Homo sapiens: one gene and its partner. The protein of the gene in region 1 purifies or fractionates together with the protein of each later gene. This does not show direct contact. Each region holds a gene or a part of one and is shown in the gene's direction. Other genes may lie near its edges.

Evidence for each region. Proteins that work in one complex are often made in the same cells at the same time.
Region 2: the proteins of ADD1 (region 1) and MYO10 purify together in Homo sapiens (affinity purification with western blotting; one study listed by BioGRID). This does not show direct contact.

What each region holds. Positions count from the first base shown.
Region 1 is NC_000004.12:2,842,225-2,845,975, forward strand, and holds the start of ADD1 (alpha-adducin), read left to right. Parts: upstream 1-1,619; 5' UTR 1,620-1,800; intron 1,801-1,925; exon of another isoform or gene 1,926-2,610; intron 2,611-3,751. UniProt on the Homo sapiens protein: Membrane-cytoskeleton-associated protein that promotes the assembly of the spectrin-actin network. Binds to calmodulin.
Region 2 is NC_000005.10:16,670,742-16,674,392, reverse strand, and holds part of MYO10 (unconventional myosin-X), read left to right. Parts: intron 1-503; coding exon 504-711; intron 712-1,567; coding exon 1,568-1,704; intron 1,705-2,850; coding exon 2,851-2,971; intron 2,972-3,414; coding exon 3,415-3,651. UniProt on the Homo sapiens protein: Myosins are actin-based motor molecules with ATPase activity. Unconventional myosins serve in intracellular movements. MYO10 binds to actin filaments and actin bundles and functions as a plus end-directed motor.

The sequences.
Region 1 (3,751 bases):
GATCCCGTCTCTACAAAAAATAACAAAAATTAGCCAGGCATGTTGGCACGTGCTGGTAGTCCCAGCTACTTGGGAGGCTGAGGCAGGAGGATCCCTTGAGCCTAGGAGGTCAAGGCTGCAGTGAGCCATGGTTGCAACACTGCACTGCAGCCTGGGCGACAGAGACCCTGACTCCAAAAAAAAAAAAAAAAAAAAAAAAAAGGCACAAAACCCCAATAAATAGAATTTCCTTCTCTGCATAATGCTGCTATGAACATGGTACAAATAGCTGTTTTCATTTCTTTGGGGTATATATCCAGAAGTGGAATTGCTGGATTATGTGGTAATTATGTTTAATTTTTTGAGGAACCACTCTACGGTTTTCCACAGCAGCCACACCATTTTACATTCCCGTCAGCGATGCACAAAGGGTTCCAATTTCTCCGCATCTTTGCCAACACTTATTTTCTTTTTTTCCTCTTCTTCCTCCTTCTCCCCCCTTGAAACTTTTTGTTTTCTTCTCGTTTTTGTAGAGAACAGGGTCTCCTTATGTTGTCCAGTCAAGTCTGCCAACTCCTGGGCTCAGGCTATCCTCCTGTTTCTGCCTCCCTAAGTGCTGGGATTTTAGGCTGAAGCCACTGCGCCCAACTCCCTGCTTCTTCAACTGCCATCCTAATGAATGTTAAGTGGTATCCCACAGTGGTTTTGATTTGCGTTTCCCTAGTGATTAACTATGGGAAGCAGAAGTGAATGAGACAGAATTGTGATCTTGTCAGAAAAATCGTCTTGGAAAAGCCAACGTCCAACAGAAATGGTTAGAACAGGGGTCGCTGGCTTCCATCCAGACAGTATCCCTGACCCTTGTTGGGGCAATGTCACAGAGGCTCCTGCTGAGCAGGGAGGTCTGGATTCCACACTCTTCTGCCACTGCCCAGCTCTGGACCTAAGCTTTCTATGGGTGTCAAGAGGACAAGCAGCCGTGCCCATTTGTCTCGCTGCTTGTTTTTTTGGGTGTCAGATGCGCCAGCAGGAGGGACAGTGTGCGGGAAGGTGCTGGTCTGAGGCTGGTCCTGCCAAAGCCCCGCAGGCTCACTCCCTGGTCGTGCGGAGGTGGCTGGTGCTCGCTGGTCTCCTCAGCACCCGCAGGCCGGGCCCGGGGGCCAGGCAGTTGTCCTCTGTGGAGCCTTATCGGGGCCCACAGGCCCTGCTGCCTTGACCCCACCCGGGCCCCAAAACTCGGCCTGGGGACTGCACAAGGCGGGGCTACGCGGGGCAGGGCCCGTCTGCTGGGGGAGTGCGCTGGGCGGCGGCGGGAGGGCAGGGTCCCTGGGCTCCGACAGCCCCTCCGGCGGAGGTCAATCACAATGAAACCGTGTCCAGCGGACCCGGCAGGGGCTCGCCGCAGTCTACCTGGCCACCGTGAAGCCATGACCTGGCGCCCGAAGCTGCCGGCCGGGGTGTACTCCGCGCGGGACCCTGGGCCTCCGCAGGCCCCGGCGGGGTCGCCCCGAGGCGGGCCTGGCGAGTCCAATCGCCCTGCCCGCAGGGGACCCGCCCCTCATGGGTCCCGCCAATCGCAGGGTACGTTGCTCGGCAGTGCTGCGCGGCTTGGCCTATGGGACGGCGCGTTGTTGGGCTGCAGCGCCGCAGGCCGCACCCAGGTCGGGCGGTGGGGGCGAGCGGAGGGGCTGAGGGGCGGAGAGGCCTGGCGGGCCGCTGCTGCGGGCCAGGGGACGGGGGCGGAGCCGGAGCCGGAGCCGACGGGCGGTGGCCGCACTGGGACCCCGGAATCCCGCGCGCTGCCCACGATTCGCTTCTGAGGTGAGGCTAGCTAGCGGGGGCGGCGGGGGCCCGGTTCGGGCTGAGGCGGCGGCGGGGGCGCGGGGAACTGGGCCGCGGTTGCGGCGGGCGGGGGCCGCGGGGCCTGCGGCGGCCCGGGCAGCCTCGGGGGCGGGGAGGCCGCTGCGGCGCCGAGGGCGTCTTGGAGGGGTCCCCGCGGGGCCTTCGGCCTGGGCCGAGCCGGGGAGCGAGGGCGCCGCAGATCTTTCATCGGGATAGGACCCCGGGGACTAGGCTTTTCCCGGGCCGCTCGTTCCTGGCCGGCTTGTGGGCTGCAGGGGTGGGGGCGGAGGAGGACGACCCTGGCTGGACGCTGGTCAGCATCCTGCTTGTGAGACCGGTTCCGCGGTCCGCAGCGCTGGTGGCTGCAAGGTTTGTGTACGGACGCATCTGTCGGCTCTCGTATTTAAAAACGACGGCTTCTGCCAAAAGAGAAAAGCCATATCTGCCGACGGACGCTCGAGAGATAATCGTGGAACTTTATCAGCGATGGGGCTGTTGGTCACCTTTGCCCTCCCTCTCTTTTCTTTTTTCTTAATCTTTTATTTTCGTTTTTTGGGAGATGTCAGAGGGCCTTTCCCTGTTAGGATGACTTTTATCTTTGCTCTTGTAATGGCTCAAGATAGTTGGGAGGTAATTTGCATTCACTTTATGCATACCCACCTTGAAAAACGTATTTTGGTTCGCCTGAAACTGTTGTTGGTTTGAGCATAATTTATGTTTAGAAAGACAAAAAGCAATTGTCATATCTCCAAAGACCAAAGACATAGCTGATAGCTGTATGCATTACTGGTAAGTTAAAGAAAGATTTTTTGTGTGAAAAATTGACTGAGATCTTAATGGGGATAGGAAATAGAATGCTGATAGGTCGACTGTGTCTATGAGTAGAGGCGCCTAGTGAAAACAAGCTTGGAGTGGATGAGTAGGAGTTCAACAGGCACCAGAGAGAGGAGGGCATTTCAGGCAGAGGGTGTGAATTGTATGAAAGTGAGTTTGTAAACTTTGGAGCCTTGAATGGACAAAGGCCCGCGATGATACCTTTTTTTTTTGAGACGGAGTCTCGCTCTGTCGCCAGGCTGGAGTACAGTGGCGCGATCTCCAGTCACTGCAATCTCCGCCTCCCAGGTTCAAGCAATTCTCCTACCTCAGCCTCCCGAGTAGCTGGGACTACAGGCGCGCGCCACCACGCCCAGCTAATTTTTGTATTTTTAGTAGAGACGGGGTTTCACCATGTTGGCCAGGATGGTCTCAGTCTCTTGACCTCGTGATCCGTCCGCCTAGGCCTCCAAAAGTGCTGGGATTACAGGCGTGAGCCACCGCGCCTGGCCTACGTTAAAATTTTAATATACTCCTTTGATTTTGACAGTGGAGAAAACTAGAATAGTAAAGTTGTCTTTTCAGGAAGTGGATGATTTGGGCAGTCAAAACTGCTTTTCAGAGTTTCGATGTGGTTTACAATGGTATGGACAGCTGGTATGATTTGTTAGTTTTCTACTTGTGGTGTCTTTAGGTTTTAAAGTTTCGGAGAGTCGCTGAGTGATGTGAGTCTAAACTCTAGCCAGTCCCCGAATTGTGAGATAGTTTTCCTTCTAAAATATACTTCGTACAAGCTGGTCATTTTTCCCCTTAATTCTTTTGATGTTATCTGATATACTGAGAAGGTTTTGTTTGGTGTTCAGTTTTGTGTTACTGATTTTGCCATAAAAACTGTTTATTTACATGATTTTTAGTTTTTAGTTCTTATAGTCTTTGAATTGAATAAGAAAAGTAAATACTGAAATGCTTTGAAAGATAACAAAATATTTACTTATTGCTTGAAACTTAGAGTTAGATTGACTGCCCTTCCTTTCTTTCCTTCCATGTTTACCTCTTAACATATACACATATGTAGAGAGAATAGTATAAACCCCTTTTCTCAACCAGTTTCAACAGT
Region 2 (3,651 bases), on another chromosome or scaffold:
GGTTCAAGCGATTCTCCTGCCTTAGCCTCCTGAGTAGCTGAGATTACAGGCGCCCGCCACAACGCCTGGCTAATTTTTTGTACTTTTAGTAGAGATGGGGTTTCACCGTGTTGGCCAGGCTGGTCTCGAACTTCTGACCTCAGGTGATCCACCCGCCTCGGCCTCCCAAAGTGCTGGGATTACAGGCGTTAGCCACGGCGCCCGGCCAAGAATTTTCATATGATAGGATGAGGCATGACTCTTTCAAGTATTAACAACGCTGCAGAGGTGAGTTGGCAGCACAGTTGCTCCCAGTGAGACATTGGCTCTTTAGGGGTTTTTTGTATTTAAATTGAACTGCACAAAATGAAGCGGGCCCTTGCCAAGAAGTCACTGGTGCTTGCTCCATTCACCAGTGGGGGACCATTCACTGCTTTGGTCTACAGAACCTTGGCACAGCCTAGTTCCTCCCAGCAGCCAGCCCCCATCAGTCTAAAAATTAACAGTTAGTGTTTGCCTCCTAGGATACGGGAACAGTTTCCAGGAAGCGAGATGGAAAAATACGCTCTCTTCACTTACGAATCTCTTAAGAAAACCAAATGCCGAGAGTTTGTGCCTTCCCGAGATGAAATAGAAGCTCTGATCCACAGGCAGGAAATGACATCCACGGTCTATTGCCATGGCGGCGGCTCCTGCAAGATCACCATCAACTCCCACACCACCGCTGGGGAGGTGAGGAGAGGCAGCTGCTGCTTGTTCTGTTAGATGCCTTTGCTGCAGATACACCTGCGTCAGGAACATTGTGCAGCATTAGAGTGGCTGTCCTGCACAGTTGCAGTTTGCTTAGTACAGCTCTCAATACTAAGGAAATGCATGTAACCCAGAAGCAACCACACGAATATAGAGATAAAAATATATATATTGAGTGGAAACACAGAGATAAAGTACCTGAGACATAATCTTGCTAATCTGAGAAGCAGCTGAGTGTCTAGCAGAGCTGCAGACCTGGCTCAGGTCCAGCCACTTTGATGAGGGTTTATTGCAGTGCTTCTGCAACAAAGTGTTTGTTTGCACGTGACTAGCTAGATGAATATCAGATGAACACATTTTCTTTTTAAAATTTGAACTTACTATTATAAAACCAGTTGGCCAAAAGGGTGGTAATCCAATAACCACCACCCCGACCCCCACCCCCCAAGGCTTCTTATGGAAAAAAAAAAAACGTCATCTGGAGTCTCTGTTGTTCCTTGGAGTTCATAAATTTATCAGCCAAAAGACAGGACTGAAGCTTTTCACCCGCTTTTCCTGTTAATATAGGTTTGCAAGAAATCAGCCCAGCATCTGCCTCTACCGATGGGCAAAATACCCTGAGTTATTTTCAGCAAGAAAGAGATAAACCTAATCTCAAGAGAACAAAGGGAAAATAGTACTTTTGAAATTCTGGGATGACCACACGGGTAACATTTTTAGGAGGCTGGAGACGCCCTTGTGCCAGCAGCTCCCTCTGGGATCAGGTGATGGCACGTTCTGGGAACACGTGTTGGGGCCGCAGCCTGTGGAACTGAAGTCCCCCTGGTGTGTCTTCCAGGTGGTGGAGAAGCTGATCCGAGGCCTGGCCATGGAGGACAGCAGGAACATGTTTGCTTTGTTTGAATACAACGGCCACGTCGACAAAGCCATTGAAAGTCGAACCGTCGTAGCTGATGTCTTAGCCAAGTTTGAAAAGTAGGTTCCTTTTCCCTACTGTGTCAGAAGAGCAAATAAGAGAAATTGCAGAGCAGGGTTCAGGGTTTGAGCTTCCCATTCCATTTGTGGCTTCACGCTGTATTGGAGTTAGTTTTATTTTACCTGTGTTGATGCCTGTTTAACTTTGCATATCCGCTATTTTTCTCGATTCCTAGATAAAGCTACGGTCTTACGTGATGTAACTTGTCAGTGGTTTTTTACCCCATTCCTTTTCTCAGTTCCATGTTGGACCCGTCTGGGTATTTCTTGATTTTTTAGGTTTCCAGTTGTCATTAGCTTTGAAATTGGGCTGATTGACTGAAGCCAGCTTATAAACTCTTTAAACTATGTGTTATGTCTACAATATAAAATGGACCTACTTTTTTTTTTTTTTGAGATGGAGTCTTGCTCTGTTGCCCAGGCTGAAGTGCAGTGGCGCAACCTTGGCTCACTGCAACTTCTGCCTTCTGGGTTCAAGCAGTTCTCCTGCCTCAGACTCCCGAGTAGCTGGGATTACAGGCATGTACTACCACGCCCAGCTAATTTTTGTATTTTTAGTACAGATGGGGTTTGGCCATGTTGGTCAGGCTAGTCCCAAACTCCTGACCTCAGGTGATCCGCCCACCTGGGCCTCCCAAAGTGCTGGGATTACAGGCGTGAGCCACTGCACCTGGCCTGTAGACCTACGCTATTTGATCTGTGACTTCATATCCTCGAAGTAGCGCGAAGGTATTCCTGCTTAGTATAAACACAGCCCTCATACAAGAGTATTCACATCAATTTTTATAAATGTTATCATAATGTATCTGAGGCTTGGTAAAGGTAATAAAGAAACAGGCTTTTGTTTCTTTTCTTCCCGTGGACTCAGCATAATGCTTAGCTGGTACTAATTCGAATGCGGCTCTCTGAAAACACTTGTTAGCTGGTTAAACTAGGGGCTGCCTGTTTGTTTTCTTAAAGCAAAATCAGGATGAAAGTACGTTTTTTCACTCTGTTTATTCCTCTATCCCCATCTCTATCCACTGTTTTCTGGGCCCGGACAGAATGTCTGTGTCCTTAGAATACACCATGTAAAGTCAGGTCCCTGCGGGTCACTGAAGGCCCTTCTCGTTCATATTCTGAGCCTCTCTTGACTCCTCTCTGTAGGCTGGCTGCCACATCCGAGGTTGGGGACCTGCCATGGAAATTCTACTTCAAACTTTACTGCTTCCTGGACACAGACAACGTGCCAAAAGACAGTGTGGAGTTTGCATTTATGTTTGAACAGGTAAAAGGAATAGTTAGAAACAGATTTCTTTGCCGGCAAGCAAGGGTGAAACCTGTTAATACTTAGCCTTGTAAGTTAACTGGTACTTAGAAATGAGGCACACCTGTGGATTTCCCAGCAAAGACAAGACCAGCTGCTCTTTCATTCGTTTGTAGAATGAAACCTGCTACACATTTTATTTGAACCTCCGTTCCAGGGACTGTTCTAGTTGACAGGAGAGAGAGCACAAGGAATAAAATATGTGACGTGTGTTAGATGGTATCTGTGCTAGGGAGAAAATTAAATTTAAAGCAGTGAGCCAGGGGTGAGGGTACAGTTTTAGCCAGGGCAGTCAGGGAAGGTGAGTTTGAGAGAAACCCTCATGAAGTGAGGGAGCAAGCGACGTGGGCATCCCATGGCATGGCAGTGCGTTGACCGGAAAGCTGTTGACTGTCTCCTTTCAGGCCCACGAAGCGGTTATCCATGGCCACCATCCAGCCCCGGAAGAAAACCTCCAGGTTCTTGCTGCCCTGCGACTCCAGTATCTGCAGGGGGATTATACTCTGCACGCTGCCATCCCACCTCTCGAAGAGGTTTATTCCCTGCAGAGACTCAAGGCCCGCATCAGCCAGTCAACCAAAACCTTCACCCCTTGTGAACGGCTGGAGAAGAGGCGGACGAGCTTCCTAGAGGGGACCCTG